Linked DNA regions of Homo sapiens: all the other regions are linked to region 2. Evidence: fine-mapped expression QTL. A gene starts in region 2. Each other region holds a variant in brackets. All regions are shown on one strand. Distances are between the middles of the regions. Region 1 overlaps LIG1 (DNA ligase 1). Region 2 holds the start of PLA2G4C (phospholipase A2 group IVC). Region 3 overlaps ZNF114 (zinc finger protein 114). Region 4 overlaps LIG1 (DNA ligase 1). Region 5 overlaps BSPH1 (binder of sperm protein homolog 1). Region 6 overlaps ZSWIM9 (zinc finger SWIM-type containing 9). Region 7 holds the start of LIG1-AS1 (LIG1 antisense RNA 1).

Region 1 (4,255 bases), 22 kb before region 2:
GGCCGATGGCAGTTCCACAGATGGCCTCAGAGCACCTGCTCTGGGCCAGGGCCCCCCACTGGGTGCTGAGCAGAGAGTGGTGAACAGGCCCGGGCAGCAAGCTCAACTCTGCCTGCACGTGGGGCTCTATCAGCTGCTGACCTCAGGCCTACCCCACACCAGCTACATCAAAATCTTTGTAGGTGGAACCTAGCCTTGAAAACCTTTGTCTATTTTTATTTTGTTTGAGACGGAGTCTCGCCCTGTCATCCAGGCTGGAGTGCAGCAGCACAATCTCAGCTCACTGCAACTTCCGCCTCCAGGGTTCAAGTGATTCTCCTGCCTCAGTCTCCTGAGTAGCTGGGACTACAGGCGCGTGCCACCACCCCCAGCTAACTTTTATATTTTTAGTAAAGATGGGATTTCACCATGTTGGCTAGGCTGGTCTTGAACTCCTGGGCTCAAGTGATGCACCCACCTCGGCCTCCCAAAGTGCTGGGATTACATGCCTGTAGGCATGAGCCACCATGCCCGGCCAAAAACCTTTTTTTAAAAACTGTATTCTTGAGTGGTCTCCTGTGTAGCCGAGTAGAGAATCGCTGGTCTCGTGGTGACAGATAGGGAACAGGGGCAAGGCCAGACTAAGGGAGACAAAGCAACAGATAGTGACACGAAGGGAGAGCACAGAGACAGGGTGGCAAGAGGAGCTTGGCAGGTGGTGACTCAGTGGGCAGAGGCATCCAGGAGCCCAGGCTTCTGGGAGCAGGCCGAGCTCTCTTTCCAAACTGTGTGAGTTCTAGAAAGGCTTCCCCTATCTTGTTCTCACCCGCCACCCCAGCGAGGTTCCCGACCTGGACCGAATTATCCCCGTGCTGCTGGAGCACGGCCTGGAACGTCTCCCGGAGCACTGCAAGCTGAGCCCAGGTACAGGCCCCAGGGGCGCTCACCAGCCTGGCAGCAGCCCTGCTCCCTCCTGAGTCGGCGTGAGGGTGGCCATCGTAGGCGCCCCTCTCAGAACTTGCAGAGTCCTCTCCCCCACCAAAACCAAATGCTCCTCCCTGGTGCTGAAACCCACTGCTTTTCTCCTTGGAATTTCCCCTTGTGGAGTAGATAGGGTGTAGGTGACACTGCTGTGATAAACAGGAGCCGGGCGTGGTGGCGTGTGCCTGTGATCCCAGCTACTCGGGAGGCTGAGGTGGGAGGATCGCTTGAGCCCAGGAGTTCAAGGCTGCAGTGAGCCGTCATCGCGCTACTGCACTCCAGCTGGGCGACAGAGTGAGACAATAAATAAGTAAATAAAAATGGGCCAGAAGGCAGTGGGTCAGGCCAGATAGAATTTCTTTCTGTCACACAGAAGTGTCCAGAGCAAGGGAGGTGGCCAGGGAAGGTACAGGTGTGCAGCTGTGTCCCAGGGATGACCCGGGGACCCAGGTTCCTGTGTCCCTCTGCCCTCCAAAGGTTGTCACCCCAATGTCTGTGATCAAATGTGGCTCACTTCCCTGTTCTAATTGTGGGAGGAGGGACGCAGAGGAGGGAGGGGAGGCAACCAGATTCCTTGCAAGGATGTGAGCCAGACATTGCACATGCTGCGTGGGTTCCAATCACATGGCCTTTCCCACCTGGAAGGAAGGCCGGGGGCTGTAGTCCCCAGTGGGAGGCTAGGTCCCCTTCTAAAACGTGGGAGGCTTCGTGACTGAATAGCAAGAAAGCAGAATGGTCCTGGGGCCCATTAGCAGTTCTCCTCTCCATGTTCCCCCTCTAATCCATTGCCTTCCCTCTCCTCTAACTCACTCTCCTCCTTTCCCAGGGATTCCCCTGAAACCAATGTTGGCCCATCCCACCCGGGGCATCAGCGAGGTCCTGAAACGCTTTGAGGAGGCAGCTTTCACCTGCGAATACAAATATGACGGGCAGAGGGCACAGGTATGGGGAGTGGGACATGTCCCTTCCACAGACAGGAAAACGTCAAAGAGCAGGGGTGTGGGGTCACTGAGGCCTGAGCTTCAAGCCGGCCTGCGCCACAGACTGCCGAGCCCTCGCTCATCTCTCTGGGCTTCAGCATCCACCTCCATGCAGTGAGTGTGTTCTTTTTTTTTTTTTTTTTTTTTTTTTTTGAGACAGAGTCTCACTCTGTCATCCAGGCTGGAGTGCATTGGCATGATCTTGGCTCACTGTAACCTCCACCTCCTGGCTTCAAGTGATTCTCCTGCCTCAGCCTCCCAAGTAGCTGGGACTACAGGCGCCCGCTACCGTGCCCGGCTAATTTTTTGTATTTTTAGTAGAGACGAGGTTTCACCATGTTGGCCAAGATGGTCTCGATCTCTTGACCTCATGATCCACCCACCTCAGCCTCCCAA[AG/G]TGCTGGGATTACAGGCATGAACCATCGTGCCTGGCCTCTAGGGTGTGGTCTTAACTACCTCACCAGCTTATCCGAAGCTACAATCCTCCAGAGTCCTGACCGATGATAGTGGGAGCTCATGAAACGTGGGCTCCGCTGATGCTGCTGGTGGGTGTGTTCATTTTAACAGCCGTTCTGGGAGGTGCCTACATGACCCCTTCATGCCGTGACGTGCATGTGTGTCCTGTGATCCAGGGCCTCAGGCGTCCTTGGTCCTGGGGTCTGTAAGAATGTGTTGTGTCTCTTCTGTCCTGGCAAGTGTGGGGCCTTCTCACCTGGGGATAGGTAAGCAGGCAAAGTGGGTGGGAGCCACAGGGCTCGGGGCAGTTACAGGAAGTGGACCCCTGAGGAGACCAGCCTGGCCAACATGGTGAAACCCCATCTCTACTAAAACCACAAAAATGAGCCAGTGTGGTGGCGTGTGCCTGTAGTCCCAGCTACTCGGGAGGCTGAGGCAGGAGAATTGCTTGAACCCAGGAGGCAGAGGGTGCAGTGAGCCAAGATCGTGCCACTACACTACAGCCTCCACGATAAGAGTGAGACTCCATCTTTTAAAAAAAAAAAAAAAAAAAGGGTGGATCCAACAGACACAGGATCAGAGATGGATCTCCAAAATAGTGTTGAGAAAAAAGACACAAGATGATTTACGATAGTGACAATGATTTCTTGACAACTGTTCCTGGAAATAATAACAAACATATAAGATGCTATATATGCCGCCCTGCTCAAGGGCTGTGACCGGACTGTCTTAAAATAAATAGACATAGAGGCTGGGCGCAGTGGCTCACGCCTGTAATCCCAGCACTTTGGGAGGCTAAGGTGGGCGGATCACCTGAGGTCGAAAGTTCAAGACCAGCCTGGCTCTACTAAAAATACAAAAATTAGCCAGGTGTGGTGGTGGGCGCCTGTAATCCCAGCTCCTTGGGAGGCTGAGGCGGAAGGCTCTCTTGAACCCGGGAGGTGGAGGTTGCATTGAGCAGAGATTGCACCACTGCTCTCCAGCCTGGGCGAGACTCCGCCTCAAAAAAAAATCAGAATGAGATCTAGAGCATAATGACATTTAAACAAATCAGCACCCACATGCAGCAAGGTGCATGTGCCTACATGGGGAGAGGTGTAGGGATTGGAAATGAAGAAGAAAATGATGGTAGGGCCTTCCAGAGCAGGGCTGGGAGGTGCTGTTGGAACTGAGGAGATGATTCGCTCAAGTCTCTGCACCAGTTCCTCCTCCAGAGCTTCCAGAACCTTCTACCAGTGCAGGTGGGGTCAGAAGAGAAAGCTGAGGCCACATGAGGGGACTCAGCTGATTTCCCCTCCCTTCTCCCATCGTGACAGATCCACGCCCTGGAAGGCGGGGAGGTGAAGATCTTCAGCAGGAATCAGGAAGACAACACTGGGAAGTACCCGGACATCATCAGCCGCATCCCCAAGGTGGGCGTCTGCCACACACTTGCACTCTGCCAGGGTCTGTGGTCAGGGGTGCAAAGGCCTGAGGCCCATCTAGGCCAGTGTGGCACAGTGCGGGGTTTATTGGGAGGAGATCAGGTTGCGTTTGGCTGCAAATGACAGAGCACTCAGTCCTGCGTGGTGTAAGCCCATATGATTTTTTCTCACATCTAGAGGTGGGCACCCCAGCACCGACTTGGCTGAGCACTGATGTCCCCCTGAACCAAGCTTATCGCTACCTCTATCCCCTGCTGTCCTTGGCTGGTTGGCTTTTAGTGCCAATGCTTGTCCCCTTAGAGTTTCCCAAACAGATGTCATTCTTCCAGACAGAAAGAGGGAAAAGGGATTCTAGCTTGAGTTAACACTTTCCTGGACACCTCCCACCCACAACCCCTCCCCCGCCGTGGACTGCAGCTGGGAGTCACTGTCCAG
Region 2 (4,255 bases):
TCCCCACATTACTGGCTTTGTGTGGAGACCATGGTTCCTTTGGGCTTGGCTCTTCCTCCCTGCACCAGTGCAGGGCCCCAGGAACACATCTGCCACACACGGCCGCCATGTCCCTCTGCTGAAGCTAGTCAGGGTCATCCTCACTCCTCAGTGACCCTCATGATGGCTCCACCAGGTAGGTACTTTTATTCTCCCCATTTAACAGGTGAGGACACTGAGGGGCACAGGGATGTAAGTTACCTTCCCTAGGTCCACTATCTAGGAAGTGGTGGGCCAGGGTTTGGTCCATGCTGTCAGCTCCTTGACCCTGCATCTATAACTACTAACTATACTGTGGAGAGCCTCATGAGCTCCTGCGAGGTGTAGAACCTTATCCCGCAGGCGGGGCAGTGGCATGGTCAGGTCTAGGAGTGAAAAGATCCTGCGATGGTTGGAGTTGCGGGCACTGAAGAGGTGAGCCTGGCGTTAGGGGGAGCAGGGGAGACCATCTTCCCCCTGGTGAAATCCTGTTCTAAAATTGGTGATACTCCTGCCTTGGCCTCCCAAAGTGCTAGGATTATGGCCTCATATCTATTTTTAAAAAATAAGAATTCAAGCTGGGTGCGGTGGCTCGCAACTGTAATCCCAGCACTTTGGGAAGCCGAGGCAGGTGGATCACTTGAGTTCAGCAGTTCGAGCCAGCCTGGCCAACATGGTGAAACCCTGTCTCTACTAAAAATACAAAAATAATTAGCCGGGCGTGGTGGCAGATGCCTATGTTCCCAGCTACTCGGGAGGCTGAGGTAGGAGAATCGCTTGAACCCAGGAGACGGAGGTTGCAGTGAGCCGAGATTGCACCACTGCACACCAGCCTGGGCGACAAAGAGTAAGACTCCATCTCAAAAAAAAAAAAAAAAAATTCAAAACCCATCGAGTTGGGATGACGCTTAGTGCTGGGCTTCAGGAAGAGTAGGCAGGAGGGTAGTATGGGAGGTTTCTAGGAGCCACTCTTGGAAGCGGTGCTCCCCACAGATGCCCGATTGCACTGACTGGAACTCGGTCACATGACCACATAACTCGCTCACATGACCACACCTAGCTGCAAAGGTGCTGGGAAATGTGGTACCCTGTTGGGAGGCCACTTCTGGGCTTCAAACCTTCACTGTGAATGGAGCTCACAGGTTTTCTAAAAATGGACATTAAATGAACCAGAGTTGGCCCTAAGGATCTGGCTCACTGCAACCTCCACCTCCCAGGATGAAGCACCTGCCTCAGCCTCCCGAGTAGTAGCTGGGATTACAGGCACACGCCACCATACCGAGCTAATTTTTGTATTTTTAGTAGAGAAGGTGTTTCACCATGTTGGCCAGGCTGGTCTCGAACTCCTGACTTCACATGATCCGCCTGCCTCAGCCTCCCAAAGTGCTAGGATTACAGGCGTAAGCCACCACGCCTGGCCTCAATATTTCTTTTTCTGGGTATTTGAGTATGATATTATATATGATGGTTATTAGACAGCCAGATGCATAGGAGGATTAGCTAATCTGTTTTGAGGAATACTTATCTCCAATATAGTTATATAACGACAACATTCTTTTTTTGAATACTGGTCTCGGGTGCCTAATGACAGAAGGGTGACATCACTAAGGAAGCCTGGAAAGTCCCAGCCCTCCACGTGATCCCACGGATGAAAATAGCTCCGGGTGAGCTCTGGAACAGCTGAAAAAGCTGGAGCAACCAAGCAGGGCCTACAAGCCGAGGAGGGCTGTTTAAAGGCGCAGGGGCCATTTTACCTCCAGGTTGGCCCTGCTCAGGACCAGGAGGAAACACCTCCAGCCCGCGACCTCCTCCCACAGGGGGAAAAGGAAAGCAGGAGGACCACAGAAGCTTTGGCACCGAGGATCCCCGCAGTCTTCACCCGCGGAGATTCCGGCTGAAGGAGCTGTCCAGCGACTACACCGCTAAGCGCAGGGAGCCCAAGCCTCCGCACCGGATTCCGGAGCACAAGCTCCACCGCGCATGCGCACACGCCCCAGACCCAGGCTCAGGCAAGCCGTGGGGGCAGGGAGGGCTGTTTCATCCCGCTGGGGCGGCCATAACCAAGTACCAGGGATTGGGTGCAATTAAATAACAGGATTTCTTTTTCTTTTTTATTTTATTTTATTTTATTTATTTATTTATTTTTTTTTGAGACAGCATCTCGCTCTGTCGCCTAGGCTGGAGTGCAGTGACGCGATCTCGGCTCACGGCAAGCTCCGCCTCCGGGGTTCAAGCGATTCTCCTGCCTCAACCTCCCGAGTAGCTGGGATTACAGGCGCACACCACCACACCCGGCTAATTTTTGTATTTTTAGTAGAGATGGGGTTTCACCATGTTGGCCAGGCTGGTCTCAAACTCCTGAACTCGTGATCCACCCCACTCGGCCTTCCAAAGTGCTGGGATTACAGGCGTGAGCCACCGCGCCCGGCTAGGAATTTATTTTCTAACACTTCTGGAAGCTAGAAGTCCAAGATCAAGGTGTTGGCAGGGTTGGTTTCTCCTGAAGCCTCTTGCAGAGGCCCTAATCTCTCCTTATAAAACCAATCAGGCTGGGCGCGGTGGCTCACGCCTGTAATCCCAGCCCTTTGGGAAGACGAGGCGGGCGGATCCTGAGGTCAGGAGATCGAGATCATCCTGGCTAACACAGTGAAACCCCGTCTCAACTAAAAATACAAAAAATTAGCTGGGCGTGGTGGCGGGCGCCTGTAGTCCCAGCTACTCCGGAGGCTGAGGCAGGAGAATGGCGTGAGCCCGGAAGGCGGAGCTTGCAGTGAGCCGAGACTGCGCCACTGCACTCCAGCCTAGGGCACAAAGCGAGACTCCATCTCAAAAAAAAATAAAATAAAATAAACCAATCAAACCAAATTCCAGGCCACCCTCAGGACCCCACTTTAACTTAGTCACCCCTTTAAGAGCCTATGTCTGGCCGAGTGCGATGACTCATGCCTATAATCCCAGCGTTTTGGGAAGCCAAGGTGGAAAGCTCTCTTGAGCCTAGGAGTTCAAGACCAGCCTGGGTGACATAACAAGACCTGATCTCTACAAAACATAAAAAATTTAGCTGGAGATGGTAGCATGTACCTGCACTTCCAGCTACTCGGGAGGCTGAGGTGAGAGGCTCGCTTGAGCCCAGGAGGCTGAGGCTGCAGTGAGCCACGATCACACCACTGCACTCCAGCCTGGGTGACAAAGCAAGACCCTGTCTCAAAAAGCAAACAACGAAAAAGAATCCTATGTCCAAATACAGTCACATTCTGAGGTTCTGGGGGTTACAAGTCCAACATATGAATTTGGAGGTGGTGGGGGGAAGCTGATTAATTTCATAAGGGGGGTCTTGAAACTGCCTTCGCAGAAATGTAAGTAATGAGAGAAAGCTAACATGACTGACCATCTTGTTTCTAACCTCACAGGCTAGATTTTTTTTTCTTATTCTAGTGCAGAGGCCAAAATTACCATGAGAGGAATTTAATTCATAGTTAAACTTTGAGACAAAGAAAACTGACCCCCAGTCCTTGTTGAGAGATTGAAGCCACATTCATTTACTTTTTATTTATTTATTTAGTTTTGAGACAGAGTTTCACTCTTGTTGCCCAGACTGGAGTGCAATGGCATGATCTCTGCTCACTGGCACCTCCACCTCCTGAGTTCAAGTGATTCTCCTCCCTCAGCCTCCTGAGTAGCTGGGATTACAGGCGCCCGCCATCATGCCCAGGTGACTTTTGTACTTTTAGTAGAGATAAGGTTTCACCATGTTGGCCAGGCTGGTCTCCAACTCCTGACCTCAAGTGATCCTCCCACCTCGGCCTCTTAAGGTGCTGGGATTACAGCCATGAGCCACTGTGCCTGGCCTGAAGTCACATTCATAAGACAAGGTTAGAATCATGAAGGTGCTGGAACTTTGCTAAAGAACAGTCGTGGGTTGAAGAATGACCTGCCATCCCTTAGCTTCCTTTTCTATATGTGCTCCAGAGTCACGTAACCAGGGGTCGCATGATTTATAACTTCCCCAGCTACTTCTATAAATAATATCACTGTCGTGAAACACAGAACTCAGCTTTTTAGTGGGGTGTGGTAGCTAACACCTGTAATCCCCACTTCTTGGGAGGCTGAGGCAGGAGGATTGCATGAGCCCGGGAGAATGAGACCAGCCTGGGCAACATAGTGAGACCTCAATCTCTACAAAAAAATTAAAACTTTGCCAGACGTGGTGGTGCATGCCTGTAGTCCCAGCAACCCA
Region 3 (4,255 bases), 180 kb before region 2:
TTTTTTTTTTTTTTGAGACAGAGTCTCACTCTGTCTGTTGCCCAGGCTGGAGTGCAGTGGCACGATCTCGGCTCACTGCAACCTCCGCCTCTTGGGCTCAAATAATTCTCCTGCCTCAGCCTCCTGAGTAGCTGGGACTACAGGTGCATGCCACCATGCCTGACTAATTTTTGTATTTTTAGTAGAGACGGGGTTTCACCACATTGGCCAGGCTGGTCTTGAACCCTGACCTCAAGTGATCCACCTGCCTCGGCCTCCCAAAGTGCTGGGATTACAGGCGTGAGCCACCACGCCCGGCCAAGAATGACTTTCATAAAATGCTCATTGGGAGGGCTTTGCAAAATTGGTGTTAGCAGCATGTTTATAATCTCTAAAGTGAGATACAGATCCAGGGTCTCTGGAATGAATATAACTAAGAAAGAATGAATGCCACCTGCACCCTACCTGCTTAGCTTTTCTTTTCCTGAAAGAAGCAAGGCACAAAGAAATATTCTATGCCATGCCATCATACGCAGCATAAACATCATCGAAACTAGAAAACAGGGTATTTGGGGATTTCTGCATAGCTGCAAACATAAAGATGAGCGAGGGGGGCGAATGATACAAAATGAACCATGGCGGTTTCCTCTTGGGGCTGGAGATGTCGTCTGTGAGGCACAGACGTGAATTGCCTGGTGTTTAATGATGAGCTGTTTACGGGCTTGGATGGTGGGTATAAGGGTGATCACTTTATTAACTTTGAAATGTCGTGGTGGCAGGTGCCTGTAATCTCAGCTACTCAGGAGGCTGAGGCAGGAGAATCACTTGAACCTGGGAGGCAGAGGTTGCAGTAAGCGGAGATCACGCCACTGCACTCCAGCTTGGGCAACAAGAACAAAACTCCATCTCGAAAAAAAAAATGTATATGTACATTTTCATGCATTTTCAGGTAGTCATATTTCCCAACTTTTATTTTTTATTATTTTTATTTTTACTTTTTTTGAGATAAGTTTCACTCTTGTTGCCCAGGCTGGAGTGCAATGGCACAATCTCGGCTCACCGCAACCTCCGCCTCCCAGATGCAAGCAATTCTCCTGCCTCAGCCTCCTGAGTAGTTGGGATTACAGGCGTGAGCCACCACACCTGGCTAATTTTATATTTTTAGTAGAGATGGGGTTTCTCCATGTTGGTCAGGCTGGTCTCGAACTCCTCACCTCAGGCGATCCGCCCACCTTGGCCTCCCAAAGTGCTGGGGTGACAGGCATGAGCCAACATGCCCGGCCGTTTCCCAACTTTTAAAAGATTGAAAAGAGGCCGGGCACAGTGGCTTATGCCTGTAATCCCAGCACTTTGGGAGGCCAAGGCAGGCAGGTCACTTGAGGTCAGGAGTTTGAGACCAGCCTGGCCAGCGTGGTGAAATCTCGTCTCTACTAAAAATAGAAAAATTAGCTGGGCGTGGTGGTGGGTGTCTGTAATCCCAGCTACTCGGGAGGGTGAGGCAGGAGAATCACTTGAGCCCAGGAGGCAGAGGTTGCAGTAAGTCGAGATTGCCCCACTGCTCTCCAGCCTGGGTGACAGAGCAAGACTCTGTCTCAAAATAAATACATACATAAATAAAATAAAAATAAAAATAAGACATTAAATAGTGCTCATTGTGGAAAGTGAATCTATGTGCCCTTAGTAAAGAAGATGAGAAGAATGGAGGTGGCAGGGAAGTTGACAGAATAGGGCACATTAGACTGA[C/T]AAAGTCATAACAAGTAACCCAAGTTGGTACCAGAAAGACCACATACTCTGACCATAATGCAGTTGAACAGTGACCAATAAGACAAAAATGGTATCATGGAGTATATGAATCCCAAGTCTAAATTGAATGAGGCTCAAAGAAGGCTTCACATTGAAAATGAGACCACGTGTATGTGAGTTATAATGAACCTGCTATATACCAACATTTATGTGGCAGAGCTGGGAGTGTGCAAAGAGGGATATCCTTCATCTTGTAGCATTTTTTTTTTTAGAAAGGAAAAACTGGAAAATCATGAACATTTACAGTGTTTCAGTCCTACTGTGCGCTCATTGTGCCTAAGTGAAAGGCTGGACCTGAAAGCTTTCTTTTTTTTTTTGAGACAGGGTGTCACTTTGTCACCCAGGGTGGAGTGCAGTGGTGCAAACACAGCTCACTGCTGCCTCAAGCTCCCAGGCTCAAGCGATCCTCCTGCCTCAGCTCCCCAGGTAGCTGGGACTACAGGCATGTGCTACCACTCCTGGTTAATTTTTGCATTTTTTTTTTTTTTTTTGTAGAGATGGGGTTTCTCCATGTTGCCCAGGCTGGTCTCAAACTCCTGGACTCAAGCAATCCCCCACCTTGGACTCCCAAAGTGCTAGGATTACAGGTGTGAGTCACTGCACCAGGCCTTGAAAGCTTTCTTATTTTTATTCCAGTTGTAGCCTCCCTTCAGGATGTGGATTCACATGCAACATGAGTGGTAAGTGTTTAAAGAGGTCTTTCCTACTTTTTTTTTTTTTTGAGACGGAGTCTCGCTCTTTCCCCCAGGCTGGAGTGCAGTGGCTCCATCTCGGCTCACTGCAAGCTCCACCTCCCAGGTTTACACCATTCTCCTACCTCAGCCTCCCAAGTAGCTGGGACTACAGGCACCTGCCACCACGCCTGGCTAATTTTTTTTGTATTTTTAGTAGAGACGGGGTATCACCGTGTTAGCCAGGATGGTCTTGATCTCCTGACCTCGTGATCCGCCCGCCTCGGCCTCCCAAAGTGCTGGGATTACAGGCATGAGCCACCGCGGCCGGCAGGTCTTTCCTACATTTTTTATTTCCGTAAGGAGTCTCTGCAGTGTGAGTTCTTGTATGAACCATGAATTTGAGACCACGCTGAAGGCTTTGTCATATTCCTTTTAGATTCGCAGTTTCTCTCCAGGGTGAGAACAAATGTCTACTCAAGATGAATGAAGATGAAAGGCTTTCTGTAGACTTTACCTTCACAGGGTTTTTTTTCACATTTCTGTAAGATACGAGAGTTCAGGGAAGATGTTCTCACTCATGCTAACCCCTTGAGCTCCCTTCCAATATGTCCTCCTCACATGTTTGGTACAGTCAGAAAATTAATGAAAAATTTTCCACCTTCCTTTCATTCACAGGGCTTCTCATCTTTGTGAGTCTTAAGATGTTTTTTAAGTCCTGACGACTTTGCAAAGTCTTTTCCACATGTCTTACATTTATAGGGTTTCTCTCCAGTGTGGCTCCTTATATGTGTATATTTTGAGGACTCCCGAATGACTTTCCCACATTCTTCACATTCGTAGGGCTTCTTCTGCACAACATGCTTTCTTAAATGTTTATTAAGGTGTAAGGAATATCTAAAGGCTTTCCCACATTTCCCACATTCATACGGTTTCTCTCCAGTGTGAATTTTCATATGTCTCATAAGGAATGACTGATAAAAAAAGGCTCTCCCACATTCGGGGCATTTATGGGTTTTCTCTCCAGTGCAATGACTCTTGTGTGAACCGGAATTTGGAGCGTTGGCAGAGGTTGCCCCAGTTTGACAATCCTTCTTGTTTGTCTCTGCGGTATACAACTGCATCTGCATGGCGTGAATTGAGTTATTTCTGGAGGTGTTCTCGCACTGAGTAAAATCATACATTTTCTCTCGACCATGAGTGTTGTGTGCCCTAAGGGATCCGTCTTCACGGAAAGCTTTTCCAAATGGATTCCGCTGGTGCCTGTTGGCCCCCGTATCAATTTCATCACGTATATGATGCACAGTGTTCTGACTGCCAGTCCATGTGCTTGATTTCAGCTCTGTTTTTCTCCCACACGGAACCCACTGAATGTTCCACCCCAAGACTCCATCGTCTTCGTTGTTTTCATGTGTTTTTTGACTATCGTTTAAGACAGGATTATACTTGAAAATACTTGAGTCACGTGTTAGGATACATTGTCTTATGGAATCTCCCTGTGAAGGCACAAGCCTGCAGGTAGGTTTAGAGTGGTTCCTCATTTCATGATCTTCACAAATGCTAACAGGAGATTCATCTTTCTCAGGGGCAACTGCAGGTGGCTTCACATTATTCACCCCCTGCCTGTGTGGTTCCTCTGTTTTGGGGCATCTCCAGTCTTCTCTTAATGTGGAGTGCTGGGAACTGATGCTCGTGAGACACACTCTGTTGGCTTCAGGAAATGTTCTTTTAGGAAGAATATCCGGCTGAGGGGTTGCGTCTTTGGTTTTACATGGAGTTGCCCAATCTGAAATACAGTGGCA
Region 4 (4,255 bases), 52 kb before region 2:
GTGGCTAAAAGCCAGGCATGCTGCTAAACATCCTTCAATTCATAGGACAGCCCCCCCAACAACACAGAACCATCAGGCCCAACATGTCAATAGTGTCTAGGTTGAGAAACCTCGTGTTAATGCAGTCCGGCTTCAGGAAGACAAGAAAGGGCATGACTTGACTTATATCATTGAAACCTGCTGGAGTAAACAGCCTCAGGCTTGGTTCGATCCAGTTGCCAAAACTTCCTCCCTGGGAATCTGTCTCTCTCCATTGTTCAGCTCTACTGTCCTTGAGGTTGTCCTCACCCTCAGGCGGGCTCTCCCCTCTTAGCGGTCCCCTTGGAAAGAGGGTGTTAGAGCCCAGTTTCACTGGCCCAGCCTGGGCCACATACCTATCCCTGAACCAGCCACAGGGATGCAGCCTGGATCACGTGTCCACCCCTGGTCACAGGCAAAAGGGCCAGCCCACTCAAATCGTGTGTACTGAGAGAATGTGGGGTAAGAAGCATCCCAAGAGGAAAACGGAGGGGCTGTTACCAGGAGGAAAAAATGGATGGTAGAGAGACCCAGACAAGGGCATCCATCCCAGAAACCTGGGCGGTAGTGGCTTACACAAATGCTGGGTTCCGTTTTTCTCCCGTGATGAGGAATCTGGGGATTGTCTCTCCAGGGCTGATGGTGCCTTCGATTGCTTTCTGTCCACTGGCTTTTGCATGATTTTTCCTTTTCTTTTTGAAGATTAAATAAACCTCTTATTCTGGAATAATTTTAGAGGTACAGGAAAGTTGCAAAGACAGTACAGAGAGGTCCTGTATACCCTTGGCCAGTTTCCATTGTCAATATCATACATTACTATGATCCGTTTCTCACCACTGAGATACTAATGTCAGTACATTACTCTTAACTGAACTCCATACTTTATTATTCAGATTTCACCAGATTTTTTTTTTAATGTTCACGCCTTCCAACATTTTTTTTTTTTTTTTTTTTGAGACAGAGTCTTGCTCTGTCGCCCAGGCTGGAGTGCAGTGGCGCGATCTTGGCTCACTGTAAGCTCTGCCTCCCAGGTTCAGGCCATTCCCCTGCCTCAGCCTCCTGAGTAGCTGGGACTACAGGCGCCTGCCACCACACCCAGCTAATTTTTTTTGTATTTTTAGTAGAAGCAGGGTTTCACCGTGTTAGCCAGGATGGTCTTGATCTCCTGACCTCGTGATCCGCCCACCTCGGCCTCCCAAAGTGTTGGGATTACAGGTGTGAGCCACCATGCCAGGCCCCAACATTTTATATTTAGTTGTTTGCTTAATATTTCTGCCCTTCACCAGAGTGTTAGCTTCTTGAAGGCAGGAACTTCGTGTGTCTGGGTCACTGCCAAACCCCTCAGGCCCAGAACAGGCCCTGGCACATAATAAGTGCTTAGGTAGGCCGGGCGCAGTGGCTCACACCTGTAATCCCAGCACTTTGGGAGGCAGGAGGATCACCTGAGATCAGGAGTTCGAGACCAGCCTGACCAACATGGTGAAACCCCTTCTCTACTAAATGAAAAAAATTAGCCGGGCGTGGTGGCGGCCACCTGTAATCTCAGCTACTCAGGAGGCTGAGGCAGGAGAAACACTTGAAACTGGGAGGCCGAGGTTGCAGTGAGCCGAGATTGCACCATTGCACTCCACCCTTGGGCAACAAGAGTGAAAACTCCATCTCAAAAAAAAAAATTTTTTTAGGCTGGGCGCGGGGGCACATGCCTGTAATCCCAACACTTTGGGAGGCCAGGGTGGGTGGATCACCTAAGGTCAGGAGTTTGAGACTGGCCTGGCCAACATGGAGAAAACCCGTGTCTACCAAAAATACAAAAAAAATTAGCTGGGCGTTGTGGTGGGCACCTGTAATCCCAGCTACTCGGGAGGCTGAGGCAGGAGAATCGCTTGAACCTGGGAGGCAGAAGTTGCAGTGAGCCGAGATCACACCATTGCACTCTAGCCTGGGCAACAGAGCGAGAGTCTGTCTAAAAAAAAAAGATTTAAAAAGTGCATAGTTAATATTTGTTGAATAAAACTTGGGATGTATCATATCTTGCAGGTGCGTTAGGGCAGAAAAATTAGTGTTGCCTCCTTTGTCTGAGTCTGAGTTTCCTTATCAGTTAAGTTAAAGGGCTTATTTGAAATTCTCTGTTATGTGCTGAGATGGAAATGGTGTTAGAAGTTATAGGATGCGGCCGGGCGCGGTGGCTTATGCCTGTAATCCCAGCACATTGGGAGGCCAAGCAGATCACAAGGTCAGGAGATCGAGACCATCCTGGCTAACACGGTGATACCCCATCTCTACTAAAAATACAAAAAATTAGCTGGGCATGGTGGCGGGTGCCTGTAGTTCCAGCTAC[T/G]TGGGAGGCTGAGGCAGGAGAATGGCATGCACCCAGGAGGCGGAGCTTGCAGTGAGCTGAGATTGCGCCATTGCACTCCAGCCTGGGCTACAGAGCGAGACTCTGTCTCAAAAAAAAAAAAAAAAAAGGAAGTTATAGGATACAGCATAGATAGGCAGGGTATTGGTGCTGTTATTCTCCTTTTTTTACCCCCTTTTATGCTCCTCTAGGTCATTTTTCCACCCCAAGAAAGAGGGTAAAGCAAAGAAGCCTGAGAAGGAGGCATCCAATAGCAGCAGAGAGACGGAGCCCCCTCCAAAGTATGTCACAGGGCTGGGATATGGTGAATTTTTTCCTTTAGCAGTCAGGATTGTCTTGGTTGCAAGTGTTCAAACCTAATGCAAAATGTCTTGGGGCCCAAAAAACTTTTTCAGCCAGGTGGCCAGAAGTCCAAGAGCAAGAGCAGCTGCAGGCACAGCTGGATCCAGGGCCTCGGAGTTGTCTGTACGTCTCTGTTTCTGCAGGTCTTGGCCTCGTTCTAGAACCAGACATTCTCCATAATGCAGAGAAGCTGGCCGCTGGCCACTGGCCACGTCTTGATGCTGTCTCATCTAAGTAGAAGACAACAGTACTCTTTTTTTTTTGAAATGGAGTCTCACTCTCACCCAGGCTGGAGTGCAATGGTGTGATCTCGGCCCACTGCACTCCAGCCTGGGCGACAGAGCAAGATTCCATCTCAAAAAAAAAAAAAAAAAGGCATCCCAATAGATGCTGGAGACCAATGGCAACCTTAGGCAGGGACTCCATTTGCTCCTCAGCATCACCCATCACAGGGCAGGCACTCTGGAGACTTCCAGAGATGTGTGATGGGTGGGTGAGTGGATGAGTGGGCGGGTGGATTAATGCACTGATGGATGAAATGATGAGATTTGCTGAGGAGACAACCAGAAAATGTTCATTGGATGCTTGAAAGGAAGGGAAGGAAACAGCAAAGAAACCAAAGTGTTTGCGGGCAGTGCCCCCACTCTGCCTGCTGTAGTCGCCCCTTTACACCCCCATTTCCCCACCTTCCAGGGCGGCACTGAAGGAGTGGAATGGAGTGGTGTCCGAGAGTGACTCTCCGGTGAAGAGGCCAGGGAGGAAGGCGGCCCGGGTCCTGGGCAGCGAAGGGGAAGAGGAGGATGAAGCCCTTAGCCCTGCTAAAGGCCAGGTAGGTCCCCATCACCCTGCCCATTTTTACCAGAAGAAACTAATTCCCATTAACCTTTGGAACAGAGTGCAGCAGCTGTTCAGGAGAATTCTGGAGAAATTGCCCGGGAGAGGTAGATGTGTTTCCTGGTTGTGTCGGGGGCAGACACAACCTGGTCCTAATTGCCCCTGCCCTAGGACCTCGGGTGGGCTCCTTCACCACGTTAGGTCTTGGATGCCTCAACTGTAACATGCAGCTCCTGGTAACACCTTCCTCATAGGGTGACTGGGAAGATGAAATGAGTCGATTTACATACAGATCTGAGAATAATGCCTGATGGTAAAACAAGGGCTCAAGGCCCAGCACAATGGCTTACGTCTGTAATCCCAGCACGTTGGGAGGCCAACGTGGGAGGATCACTTGAGGCCAGGAGTTCGAGACCAGGCTGGGCAACATAGCGAGACCCCATCTCTACAAAAAAATGTTTTAAAAATTAGCCAGGTGTGGTGGTGCATGCCTGTGGTGCTATCTCCTTGAGAGGCTGAGGCAGGAGGATCGCTTGAGCCCGGGTGTTCAAGGCTGCAGTGAACTGTGATTGTACCACTGTACTCCAGCCGGGGTGACAGAGCAAGACCTTGCTTCAAAAAAAAAAAAGCAAAAAAATAAGGGTTCAAAAGTATATCTAGCCTCTCCTGTGGTCAGAGGGCTTTTTAACTTCTCCAAATACATTG
Region 5 (4,255 bases), 130 kb after region 2:
AGCGTAAATCACCATGCCTGACCAGTAAAATTCTACAGCACAAAACCAAGGAAGAAGCAATCACAGAGGCCACGCGGCTCTCCTGTCTGGGGGATGAGCCTCCCATGGTTTGGTACCCAAGGACCCCAACTCCTCCCCATTCATTGTTATTGCTCTTCACCAGTGCTCTTCCAGGCCTTCTGACATTCTCTAGATTCGTAAGTTTTGTCTTCTATCTTGTGCTGTATTCCATTGAACATAGAATGGAACAGCAAGTGCAGCACTTTGGGAAGACTCCTGACCCAGCTCTTGAACCCAAACAAGAATCTTGGCCAAGTTAGGATCGTAGGACTACCATGTAGCAGGCTACAGCAATTCCCCACGATAGGGAGGCCACTGCAGCTTTTTTTCCCTAGTCTGTTCGACCAGCTTCCCCAGACTCCTCCCTCCTCTGGGGCTCCGTAGCTTGGAAGAATAAAGTCTGATAAACTATATCCTCCTGCGGGCAACTGCAAGAATGCCAATATATGCTGTTGACGATGCTGAAATTCACTGCTCATCCTCTGGAAAAGTGATCGGGTTCAGGGGACTTCATAAGCTCCTGAACACATTTCACATGCTTTCATTTTATTTACATTCACTTATTCTTTTCCTTTTTTTTTTTTCTAGACAAAGTCTTGCCCTGTCACTCAGGCTGGAGTGTAGTGGTGTGATCTCAGCTCACTGCAACCTCCACGTCCCAGGTTCAAGTGATTCTCCTGCCTCAGCTGCCTCAGTAGCTGGGATTATAGGCGCACACCACCATGCCCAGCTAATTTTTGTATTTTTAGTAGAGACAGGGTTTCACCATGTTGGCCAGGCTGGTCTCGAACTCCTGACCTCAGGTGATCTGCCCGCCTCGGCCTCCCATAGTGCTGGGATTACAGGTGTGAGCCACCATGCCGGGCCTACTTACTCTTTTTCTAATGTGCTTCCTCTCTTTATATCTCTGAAGAACTTTTAACATTTCTTTCAAGGCAGGTTTTCTGGTAGCAAATTCCCTCAATGTTTGTTTGTCTGAGAATCTTTGTCTTTCTTTCTCCTTCACTTCTGAAGAATAATTTTGCAGGGTACAGAATTCTAGATTGAAGACTTTTTTTTCTCTCAACACTGTAAATGCTTCATTCTTATCTTCATGGTTTCTGGAAAGAAGTTGGACATAATTCTTATCTTTGCTTCTCTGTAGGTAAGGTATTTTTCCCCCTCTGGCTTCTTTCAAAAGATTTTTCTTTTAAAAAATTTTATTTTAGATGCAGGAGGTACATGTGCAGATTTGTTACATGAGTATGTTGCATAAATGGTGAGGTTTGGGATTCAATTGAAGCCATTACCCAAATAATGAACATAGTGCCCAGTAGGCAGTTTTCTTTTTCTTTTTCTTTCTTTTTTTTTTTTTTTCAGACAGAGTCTTGTATTGCCCAGACTGGAGTGCAGTGGTGCGATCTTGGCTCACTGCAACCTCTGCCTCCCAGGTTCAAGCGATTCTCCTGCCTCAGCCTCCTGAGTAGCTGGGATTACAGGCGCCCACCACCATGTCCGGCTAATTTTTAGTAGAGACGGGATTTCATCATGTTGGCCAGGCTGGTCTTGAACTCCTGACCTCATGATCAGTCCACCTCAGCTTCCCAAAGTGCTGGGATTACAGGCATGAGCCACTGCACCCGGCCATCAATAGTTGGTTTCCAAGCCTGGGTCCCCTCCTTACCTCCCCACTTTTGTAATCCCCAGTGCCTATTGTTCCCATCTTTGTGTCCCTGTGCACCCAATGTTTAGTTCCCACTTATAAGTGAGAACATGTGGTATTTGGTTTTCTGTTTCTGCACTAATTTGCTTAGGCTAATGGCCTCCAGCTGCATCCATGTTGCTAAAAAGGACATGATTTTGTTCTTTGTTATGGCTGCATAAAACAATTTCGATTTGGGTTTAACTGAAAAAATGAGACTCATTTTTATTTCAAATAAGGGTATTTTTAAAACCTTATATATTATAACAGAATTTAGCTTGAATTATGACCAAAGGTGAATTCTTGAGAATGAAAAGAATTGGGATGCAGGACTTTCCTGACAAAATTGTTACGATTTTCCAGTGCATAGCTTTGTCTTCTTCCATTCTACACTTTCCTCAAAGGGTCATAAAGAAAGCCAGTTTTGTATAAGTATTCTAAGACTAATTCTAGGACTATATTAATTTTTAGGGGCCCTTCTTAATCCTTTGAATTTAAAAATATATAATATATATATTTATATTTTATGTATAATATACATATTATATATATTTATATTATATATATATATATATTTTTTTTTTTTTCTTCAAGCCAGGCATGGTGGCTTACACCTGTAATCCCAGCACTTTGGGAGGC[C/T]GAGGTGGGTGGATCACCTGAGGTCAGGAGTTTGGGACCAGCCTGACCAACATGGCAAAACCCTGTCTCTACTAAAAATACAAGAATTAGCCAAGTAAAAATACAGGTGGTGGTGCACACCTGTAGTCCCAGCTACTTGGGAGGCAGAGGCAGAAGACTCCCTGGAACCCAGGAGGCAGAGGTTGCAGTGAGCCGAGATCGTGCCACTACACTCCAGCCTGGGTGACAGAGTGAGACTCCGTGTCAAAAAAAAAAAAATTTCTCTTCAAAGCCCTTATGGAGTTACAATATGTGCTCTTTTTAACTTTGTTGTATCACTGTCATTAAATTCATACATTCTTGCATCTTTCACAAAGTGACCGGCTTCATTTTGTAGTCCACTTGCTTTGCAGTTGCATTGTACTTGCAAGGTATTTTTTGAAACATAACATCCCAACATTCACAACAAATGATCCACCAGGTGGATGGCAGAATTTCTGGTGTTAATCAGAGTGGGACGTTTGAGTGGGGACTCATAATTTTATAGCACCGAGGATGGTGCACTGTGTTTATGATATGGGGATGTTGCATTCTGATGCTTACCTGGTGATACCTGTTCTAAGATCATAGTGCTTAGCAGACAGGCTATGTTGGAATCACTCGTCTGTATCTCCCCATTCATGAAATCAGGCCTATCATGATCCTCAAAACCAAAATCCATTTCCTAATAGTTTCACTATGGAATGCATACTGAATGAACCCAACAAATCCAGGAAGTAGAAACAATTATAATCCCCATATTTCAGAGAAAGACAAGCTTAACTCCTGATGAGTCCATTGATCTTGGATTCCCACCTGAATCTCATGGTTTCTGTAGTCCAGAGTCTACCATTTCAGCCACTCCCTTTTTGGGTAGCCCAGAACCTAGCACTAGGCTGGGCACATAGTAGGCATTCAATCCATATTTGTTGTCTACATGAGTGGGTTGATGGACTGGCTGAATAAATGCAGATCCCTTCATCGTGAGATCTTCCCTATATACTGGAACCAGTGCACAGTTCAGTGGCATTCAATGCATTCAAATTGTGCAATCTATCTCCAGAGCCTTTTCATTGTCCCAAACTGAAACTCTGCACCCATTAAATAATAACTCCCCATTCCTCCCTCCCTCCAGCTCCTAACAACCACCATTCTGCTTTTTGTCTCTATGTATTTGACTATTCTAGTTACCTCATATAAGTAGAATCATATAATATTTGTCTTTTTGTGTCTGGCTTATTTTACTTAACCTAGTATTTTCAAAGTGCATCCATGTGGTGGCATCTATTCAAATTTTGTTCCTTTTTAATGCTGAATAATACTCCATTGTATGTGTCTACCATATTTTCTTTATTTACTCATTTGCTCACGGACATGTGGGTTCTTTCCACCTTTTGGCTATTATGAATAATGCTACCATGAACATGGGTTTACAAATATTTGTTTGAGTCTCTGCTTTCAATTATTTTGTATATATACCCAGAAGTGGAAGGGATCTGGGTTTTTAAAAACTCAGCTGGTGATTCTAATATGCAACAAAGCTTGTGAACCATTGTGCTGGTCCATTATGACTATTTCTTAAATAAGATGTGCCTAAGGAAAAACGTTTTAATTTCAAGCCACAATGGCAGCCAGGACAATTTAGCTGAAAAACAAACTTGTGGAATGAATAAACACGAGCAAATAGCAAAATCGTCAGTAATAAATGAAATATACACAACAAATTCAGAATTAAAATCATTGCTTTTGCAAAAATCTTTTCAAAAAATAAAAAATTAAGTCATTGCTCTTTCAAGTGTAATCCACAAATTTGATGAACTAGTTATGAACACAGAATATGTCGAGTTATAATGCTTT
Region 6 (4,255 bases), 76 kb before region 2:
CACACAAAATTAGCCAGGCCTGGTGGCGCACGCCTGTAGTCCCAGCTACTCAAGAGGCTGAGGCACAAGAATCACCTGAACCTGGGAGATGGAGGTCGTGCTGAGCCAAGATTGCGCCACTGCACTCCAGCCTGGGAGACAGAGCGAGACTCCATCTCAAAAAAAAAAAAAGGTATTAACACCTCCCTGGGTGAAGTCGCCCCCCAGTCTTGCCCTTAAATCATGCCTTGTGGCTTTGGGCGCATCCTTCTTGTCTGATCCCCTCCAAAGATCAAGAGAGCAACCCAACTCAGGAAGTGCAGGCACTTTTTACAAATAATCCTTCCTTTGGAAGACTGCTGGGAAGTGGAAAGACTGATTGTTGCTTGACCTAGGCTTGGGATGAAAATTTAAAGCTTGCTGTCTGTCTGTCTATCTATCTATCTATCTATCTATCTATCTATCTATCTATCTATCTATTTAAAGGGTCTCACTCTGTTGTCAAGGCTGGAGTACAGTGGTGTGATCATAGCTTACTGCAGCCTGAAGCTCCTGGGCTCAAGCAACCCTCGTGCCTCAGCCTCTTGAGTAGCTGGGACTACAGATGCATGCCACCATGCCTAATTTTTTTTTTTTTAATTTTTTGTAGAGACAGGTGCTCGTTATGTTGGCCAGGCTGGTCTTGAACTCCTGGGCTCAAGTGATCCTCTCGCTTCGGCCTCCCAAAGTGCTGAGATTACAGGTGTGAGCCATCGCACCTATTATATTATCAATATTACATGTTATGCGTTACATATTATAATATTAATATAATATATAATATTATATTATATAATATATAATATATATAATATTATATATAATATATATAATATAATATAATAATAATATAATATATAATATATATAATATAATATAATATATTATAATATAATATATAATATATATAATATATATAATTAATATATAATATATAATATATATAATATAATATAATATATAATTATAATATATAATTAATATAATATATTAATTATTACATTATACTGTTATATTACTACTGTATTATTAACATAATAATATAGAACTCTTTCATTAGATTTTATAAGTGAAAAAAAGGTGAAATTTCTGTGTAAAAGTGATGGATTGAACACCTCTCTAGTTTCACTCTCTCTTGAACCTCAATTACATCTTTTTTTTAAAATGGCTTTTTTTTTTTTTTAAATCAGAGGCAATATGATAGGGACAGAACTTTGGAAACTGGAAAGCAGCTGGACATGCTAATCCCACCCCACCCCTAAAAACCCATGAATCCTAAGCCAGCAATTGAGGGATGCTGAGAACCGGTAGCAAAGTCCTCAAAAGGAGCTGGCAACACCAGGCCAGTTTTGCAGAAGGCAAAATAAAGACGAACTGAGGGCTGTTTCAGCAGCAGCTAGACCTCCAAATCTCGTTTCCCCTCTCCCCTTACTCTTCCCCCACCCCCAGTGACTGGGGGTTTATTCTGTAGACAGGGTGAAACAGAAAGGGGCCGCTGGCTTTGGGGACATCTGGCCCATCTGAAGATGAGGGAGGGGGATTCTGAACCCCAAGTGGGTACTGAGTGCGTCTTGCTGGCTGAATGCCTGACAGCTCCCTGCCTCTGCCCCTGCAGCTCCCAGAAGCTGGCAGCCTGGCCCTGGCAGCCTGGCCTTCACCCCCCGCCAGGAGGCCAGAGGAGTTTTCTCAGGGGGATTTGACCAGCCCCAGAGGAAGAACGAAAGATGGTGACATCTGGCACTCCCCAACGTATAAAGCAAGATGCAAAACAGCATGTACAGGCCGGGTGTGGTGGCCCCGACCTGTAATCCCAGCACTTCAGGAGGCCAAGGTGAGTGGATCACTTGAGGTCAGGAGTTTGAGACCAGCTTGGCCAACATGGTGAAACCTCGTCTCTACTAAAAATACAAAAATTAGCCAGGCATGGTGGTGCATGCCTATAGTCCCAGTTACTCAGGAGGCTGAGGCAGGAGAATCACTTGAGCCCAGGAGGTGGAGGTTATAGTGAGCCAACAGCGTGCCACTGCACTCCAGCCTGGGTGACAGGAGTGAAACCCTGTCTCAAAGAACAAACAAACAAACAAA[CAAAA/A]ACAGCGTGTACACTAGGCTGCCCTGCTTGCTGGGGGTGGGGGGTGGCGGGGCAGAAAGAGGAAATAAAGTTAAAAATTAAAGTTAAACATACAGACATGCAAATTGACCTGTATATGTGCAGAGCTGCGCTGTCCAATCCAGAAGCCACTAGCTACATTAGGTTGTTTACATTTCGATAAATTAAATGACAAATTCAGTTCCTCAGTCATACTGGCCTCATTAAGCATTCTGTAGCCATGTGTGGCCAGTGGCCTCTGGATTGGACAGTACAGATAAGAACCATTTTCTTTCTTTTTATTTTTTTAGACAAGAGTGTCACTCTGTTACCTAGGCCAGAGTACAGTGGCATAATCTCAGCTCACTGCAACCTCTGCCTCCTGGGTTCAAGCGATTCTTGTGCCTCAGCCTCCCGAGTAGCTGAGATTACAGGCACCTGCCACCATGCCTGGCTAATTTTGAATTTTTAGTAGAGATCAGGTTTTGCCATGTTGGCCATGCTGGTCTCGAACTCCTGCCATCAGGTGATCCATCTGCCTCAGAGTCCCAAAGTGCTGGGATTACAGGTGTGAGTAACCATGCCTAGCCTGGATAAGGAACATTTCTATCATTGTAGAAAGTTCCACCGGGCAGTGCTGGTCCATAGGATAGAAAGCGAGATATGATTTATAAGCTGCTAATAACTCTGCAGGGGAGGGGACCTGGGGGACAGGATGTGATAAGACTTTTCACCACATACCTTTTTTAGAACCATGTGAATGTATGACATATTCAAAAAGTAAATATTTAAATGTTGCTTCACTAATCTGTCTCTCCTGTCCTAGAACTTCTTCCTCCTTTCTTTCAAGAGCATTAAGGGGCTGGGCACGGTGGCTCATGCCTGTAATCCCAGCACTTTGGGAGGCCAAGGCGGGGGGATCACCTGAGGTCAGGAGTTCAAGACCAGCCTGACCAACATGGAGAAACCCCGTCTCTTCTAAAAACACAAAAATTAGCATGGTGGCGCATGCCTGTAATCCCAGCTACTCAGGAGGCTGAGGCAGGAGAATCGTTTGAACCCGGGAGGCGGAGGTTGCGGTGAGCCAAGATTCCGCCATTGCACTCCAGCCTGGGTGACAAGAGCGAAACTCCGTCTCAAAAAAAAAAAAAAAAAAAGTATGAAAGCAGGTCAAAACACAGACGCAGGAGCCAACCGTGGTTTAGCCGAGATTCCAAGACAGCCTTCAAAATGAAAAGACAACTCCCCTTCCAGGGAAGGCTCTGATCTATGAATGAGCTGTTCTGCACAGGGACAATCCTGCAGAGGGTGGGTTCAGGGAAGAACAGCTGAGGCTTATTTATGTCATGGTGGGTAGTGGAGGAGAGTTACTAGATCAGCAAAGACCAGTGGAGTAGGAAGTGCATGTGTGTTTGTCCCCATGGTGAAGGTCATGGGTCTGGATCCAGGCTGTGTGGGTCCGAAGCCCAGCTCTGTCACTAAATAGCTGTGTGACTTTGAGCCAGTTACTTGACTTCTCTGTGCTTCAGTTTCCTTGTCTGTAAAATGGGGATGAGAATGGTGGACTATTTCCTCATAGGGCTCAGGTGAGATGAAAATGAGTTATAGTATGTAAAGCACTTAGGGTAGTGCCTGGCATATAGTAAGTGCTTGATAAACATTAGCTAAAATTATTATTATGTCGGGACAGAGGCCTGGGCTTGGGCTGGTGGCTTGAATCAGGGCTTCTTACTGGGCATGAGATGAAGACAGGAAGAGTGTGCCAGAGCTGAATCTCGACTTTACCCTGCCTTGGGACCTCTTCCACACACAAGGGAGACAAAGGCACAGCCAGGAGGAGAAACCAGTTCTTCCCCTACTTTCTCATCTTTCTTTCCTCTTTAAACTTCAAGTTCACCCCAAACTTGAAGTTGGATTAAAGCCGCAGAGATTCCTTATGGAGCAGCAGCCATCCTCACTGTTCCTCCAACACAAGCTTGCTCGTGCCTCTGGGCCTTTGCACTGGCTGTTCCTTCTGCCTAGAATTCTCTTCCCTCTGATGACAGAATGAGGGTCCCTTGCCTCTGTTCCATCTCCTCTGCTTCACCATCATTTGCTAAAGAGACCTTCCCTGACCAATTCAAACAGCACCCTTAGAACTGTCCCGCTCCA
Region 7 (4,255 bases), 37 kb before region 2:
AGCCAGAGAGTAAATATTTTAGGCTTTATGGGACACATTTGGCCCCTGTTGCAAAACCATTCTTAGATCCCAGAACCTGTAGAAACGGTCCAGGGTCGGAGTTTGCTGACCGTGGCCCCAGCCACCCTCTGACCCTGCCTCCAGTCTTTCATCCTCAGTCTGATCCCCGTAGAGCCTGGGGGATCTTTCTAACACCCAGAGTTGACTCTGCCCCTCTAGGGTTCCCCAGAGCCGTCAGGAGAAAATCTAAGCCCATTTGGCCACTGGCTGCCACCTCCCTCTCTGGCCTCACTTCCTACCTCTCTGTTCCTCTGGCTCTGAACTCACCAGATTTTTTATTTTTGAGACAGAGTCTTGCTCTGTCGCCTAGCCTGCAGTGCAGTGGTGCTGTCTCAGCTCACCACAGCCTCCACCTCCCAGGTTCAAGCGATTCTCCCAGGTAGCTGGGATTACAGGTGCATGCCACCACACCCAGATAATTTTTGTATTTTCAGTAGAGACACAGTTTCACCGTATTGGTCAGGCTGGTCTTGAACTCCTAGCCTCAGGTGACCCACCCACCTCGGCCTCCCAAAGTGCTGGGATTACAGGCGTGAGCCAGTACACCTGGCCTGAACTCACCAGATTTAGTGTATGTGCTGGAAGCCTGCAGGCGCGTCTACTCTGCCTTAAAATTCACTGAACACCCCTTCTTTGCCAGCCCTGGGCGGCCCACGAGGATGAACCATAGAGAGCCGGCCGCCCTGCCCCAGCCCTCGTGATGTGCTTAGTGTGCTGGGGCTGTGGGACACTGAATAGGTTGTTAAGCAATTAATTGCTTCACTGTAATTTTGTTAATTATTTGAAGAGATGTCTGGGCTGATTCCCACGACATCTAACATGCACACAGGAGGCCGCACTGAAGACTGGCTGAATGGATGATTGGATGCGTGGGTGGATAAATATCCTATAAAGTAATGAGGTCACCCCCCCATCTCTGCCATGCTCAAAACCCATCTGCGATTCTCCCCAGCATAGAGGATATGCTGGGCTTCCCAGTGCCCTCATGAGCCAGCCCTGTCCACCTTACATTGCAGCCTCCTGGCATCTGCAGCCTTTTCCTGCTCCCTCTGCACACCATGTCCCCACGTGCTGTCATTCCTCCCTGCTTTTTTTTTTTTTTTTTGAGATGGAATCTCACTCTGTTGCCCAGGCTGGAGTGCAGTGGCACGATCTCAGCTCATTGCACCTTCAACTTCCCAGGTTCAAGCGATTCTTCTGCCTCCACATCCCAAGTAGCCAGAATTACAGGTGCCTCGCCACCAAGCCTGGCTAATTTTTGTATTTTTAGTAGAGACCGGGTTTCACCATGTTGGCCAGGCTGGTCTCGAACTCCTAATCTCAGGTGTTCTGGCCGCCTCAGCCTCTCAAAGTGCTGGGATTACAGGCGTGAGCCACCACACCCAGCCTCCTCCCTGCTTCTGAACATGCTTGACCCCGGCCTACAACACTGTCCCTAACCCACCCTGCCCAGCAGGCTTCCCTCAGGCCCCAACTCCTATTGCACCTGCTTAGGGAAGCCGGGTGCCTCTCCCTTCATGTGTGAGAGGAGGTGCGTGTCCCCAGCACTTGAGTCAGACTGTCTTTTATGTCTTGTCACATGGTAAAGAGCCTCCCTAACCAGACATAAGCTCCTTCCCACAGAGCCAGGGCTGTGGGAGGTCCCA[G/A]CCTTCTTAGTCTTCTTGCCTAGCTCCCAGCACTGGGGCTGGCCCCTAGGAAGCCCAGGAAATCTGCCATGAAAGAAATTTAAATGAGCACTTTCAGATTTTTTTTTTTCACTAGTCAATCATGGACTCATTTATTTACTCAGTAAGTATTTACAAAGGACTGATTACGTGTTAGCTACTGGATTTTAGGTGCCTGAGATCTGGTAGGAAACAAATCAGACAAAAATTCCTCTTTATAGAACTTAGGTTTTTTGGGTTTTTTGTTTTTTGTTTCTTGTTTTTTTTTTTAAAGACAGGGTCTTGCTCTGTTACCCAGGCTGGAGTGCAGTGGTGCTCCTGGGCTCGGGATCCTCCCACCTCAGCCTCTCAAGTAGCTGGAACTACAGGCATGTACCACCATGCCGGGCTAATTTTTGTTTACTTTTTGTAGAGATGGGGTCCTACTACATTGCCCAGGTCGAGCTCCTGGACTCAAGTGATCCTCCCACCTCAGCCTCCCAGAATGCTGGAATTACATGCATGAGCCACCACGGCCAGCCTGATTTCTTACATAATCATATATCCATCTGAAGTTATTTTTTTCCTCTAAAGATTGTGTTTTCAAATACAATGTGATGGTGTTAGCAGCGTGGACTTCATCCCCTCTTGAATTCTTGATGTCCTGAAAGCTAAAAAAAAATTAACGGAAAAGGGGTTTGGAATAATCCCTGCTGTTCAGCAGAAAGGACAGGTGGGTTAAAAAGTATGACGCAGTGAGTCCAAAATCTCTTTGATGTCACGCCTCTACAAATGAAACAGATAACGACAAGAAATTCTTTCAGCTTTAACATTTCATGATTACAGTTTAAGTCTAACAAAAAAGTGTTCGGAGGATTCTTGACATCAATTTTGTACCCCCAATTGAGACCTTATCAAGGAGGTTAAATAGCACGTTAACGTCCTCTCTGCAGTATTCCTGTGGAGGAAGGGAGCACTTTAGCCATTTTACACACATTGACATGATTAGCCCAGAGAGGTTAGGTCGGGCCTCGCCAGGTCACACAGGGAGGTGGGGGTAGGGCCAGGCCTGGGACCCTAAGGAATGTTTTTGATTCCTAGCAGTTATTTCTTCCCCATTGCCATATCGTGCCTCCTGAGTGTGTGTCCGTGTTTGTGTATTTATAAATATGTTTTCCAAATAAAATCAGTGTCCTACTGTATATAAAGTTCTGTTTTCTATTTCAAGTGATACTACGACTGCTTTTCTTTCTTTTGAGACGGAGTTTTGCTCTTGCTGCCCAGGCTGGAGTGCAGTGGCACGATTTCAGCTCACCGCGACCTCCACCTCCCGGGTTCAAGTGATTCTCCTGCCTCAGCCTCCCAGGTAGCTGGGATTACAGGCATGCGCCACCATGCCCGGCTACTTTTGTATTTTTAATAGAGACAGACACTTTTTTGTTAGACTTAAACTTTAATCATGAAATGTTAAAGCTGAAAGAATTTCTTGTCGTTATCTGTTTCATTTGTAGAGGCATGACATCAAAGAGATTTTGGACTCACTGCGTCATACTTTTTAACCCACCTGTCCTTTCTGCTGAACAGCAGGGATTATTCCAAACCCCTTTAATTTCTCCATGTTGGCCAGGTTGGTCTCAAACTCCCGACCTCAGTGATCTGCCTGCCTCGGCCTCCCAAAGTGCTGGGATTACAGGCGTGAGCCACCACGCCAGGCATGACTGCTTTTCTTGCACCATTCCTAGCCTGGTCACTTCCCCTCTGTCTCCAATGGCTGCCTCCAAGAGACAGGCAAACTTTCCCACTCTCCAATTTCCTCACCTCTCAGATGGGGGCACAGTGATGAGAGGAAGCATGTTCTTCCACCCACTCTTCCCCACGTGCCAGGCACTCAGCAACGGGCTTTCCCTGACGCAATGCTCCAAATCCTCACAACACTGCTGGGAGTAGATTCTGTTGTTATCCTGGTTTCCTGGGTGAGAAAAGTAAAGCGGGGAGGTGGGACAGTATTGAGGACTGGCTAGGAATCCCAGCTCCACCTCTCTCAGCTGTGTGACCTTGAGGAAGTGACTTAGCCTTTCTGTGTCTCTCTTCTGAGGATGTGAAACACTTAGCCCAGGGTCTGGCCTTGATTATGACCAGCATGTTGTCACGGTAACTGCTGCTACTATTCTTATTTGTTTTTAATGCCATGCTCAGGCCACACAGGTGGGGAGTGGCAGCATTGTGGTTCTAGCCAGGCTGACTGGCTCTAGACTCCCCTGCCCACCACACTCTGCTGCCTCATTGTAATGCCGGCCACCGCTTGTTAAACCCCAAGTTCATACCAAAGGCCATGCACAGCCCTGCAGTGGCACTATCTGTCTTGGCCATCCATGCCCTGTGTGAGCATCAGAATCAGCTGAAGAGCTGAAAAATATCCTGAGGTCTCTTTCTCCCCCCCAACCCTTGTCCCCATTTTGGTACAGATGTAGGCCTGGGGCTGGGGAGTCCTCATTGTTCCATGAAGTGCACCCAGGAGTGGGAACCCTCACTGTCATTTTTTATGTAACCTT

What was found.
Region 1: its variant is fine-mapped to the expression of PLA2G4C in whole blood (INTERVAL, PIP above 0.99).
Region 3: its variant is fine-mapped to the expression of PLA2G4C in left ventricle (GTEx, PIP 0.99).
Region 4: its variant is fine-mapped to the expression of PLA2G4C in whole blood (INTERVAL, PIP 0.97).
Region 5: its variant is fine-mapped to the expression of PLA2G4C in left ventricle (GTEx, PIP above 0.99).
Region 6: its variant is fine-mapped to the expression of PLA2G4C in whole blood (Lepik 2017, PIP 0.95).
Region 7: its variant is fine-mapped to the expression of PLA2G4C in pancreas (GTEx, PIP above 0.99).

Annotation. Positions count from the first base shown.
Region 1 is chr19:48,130,629-48,134,883 of GRCh38, reverse strand. LIG1 (DNA ligase 1) reads left to right here. Exons shown (of 28, transcript NM_000234.3): 17 at 818-903; 18 at 1,787-1,902; 19 at 3,713-3,808. Among named protein-coding and RNA genes, the nearest start is that of LIG1-AS1, 13 kb to the left of the region's middle. The variant AG/G (reference allele first, on the strand shown) is at 2,337.
Region 2 is chr19:48,108,259-48,112,513 of GRCh38, reverse strand. It overlaps PLA2G4C (phospholipase A2 group IVC), which reads left to right and starts at 1,697. Exons shown (of 17, transcript NM_003706.3): 1 at 1,697-2,027. RefSeq lists an enhancer at 1,722-1,881.
Region 3 is chr19:48,285,745-48,289,999 of GRCh38, reverse strand. It overlaps ZNF114 (zinc finger protein 114), which reads right to left. Exons shown (of 6, transcript NM_153608.4): 6 at 2,392-4,239. The coding sequence ends at 3,122. Among named protein-coding and RNA genes, the nearest start is that of ZNF114-AS1, 16 kb to the right of the region's middle. The variant C/T (reference allele first, on the strand shown) is at 1,723.
Region 4 is chr19:48,160,662-48,164,916 of GRCh38, reverse strand. It overlaps LIG1 (DNA ligase 1), which reads left to right. Exons shown (of 28, transcript NM_000234.3): 3 at 2,566-2,655; 4 at 3,410-3,545. Among named protein-coding and RNA genes, the nearest start is that of LIG1, 7.6 kb to the left of the region's middle. The variant T/G (reference allele first, on the strand shown) is at 2,357.
Region 5 is chr19:47,982,225-47,986,479 of GRCh38, reverse strand. The region is part of intron 1 of BSPH1 (binder of sperm protein homolog 1); the gene reads left to right. Among named protein-coding and RNA genes, the nearest start is that of BSPH1, 7.8 kb to the left of the region's middle. The variant C/T (reference allele first, on the strand shown) is at 2,381.
Region 6 is chr19:48,184,144-48,188,398 of GRCh38, reverse strand. The region is part of intron 3 of ZSWIM9 (zinc finger SWIM-type containing 9); the gene reads right to left. Among named protein-coding and RNA genes, the nearest start is that of ZSWIM9, 16 kb to the right of the region's middle. RefSeq lists a silencer at 1-3 and an enhancer at 1,597-1,656. The variant CAAAA/A (reference allele first, on the strand shown) is at 2,104.
Region 7 is chr19:48,145,385-48,149,639 of GRCh38, reverse strand. All of the region lies in intron 9 of LIG1 (DNA ligase 1), which reads left to right. LIG1-AS1 (LIG1 antisense RNA 1) reads right to left here and starts at 3,783. Exons shown (of 3, transcript XR_007067281.1): 1 at 3,758-3,783; 2 at 3,522-3,672. The variant G/A (reference allele first, on the strand shown) is at 1,707.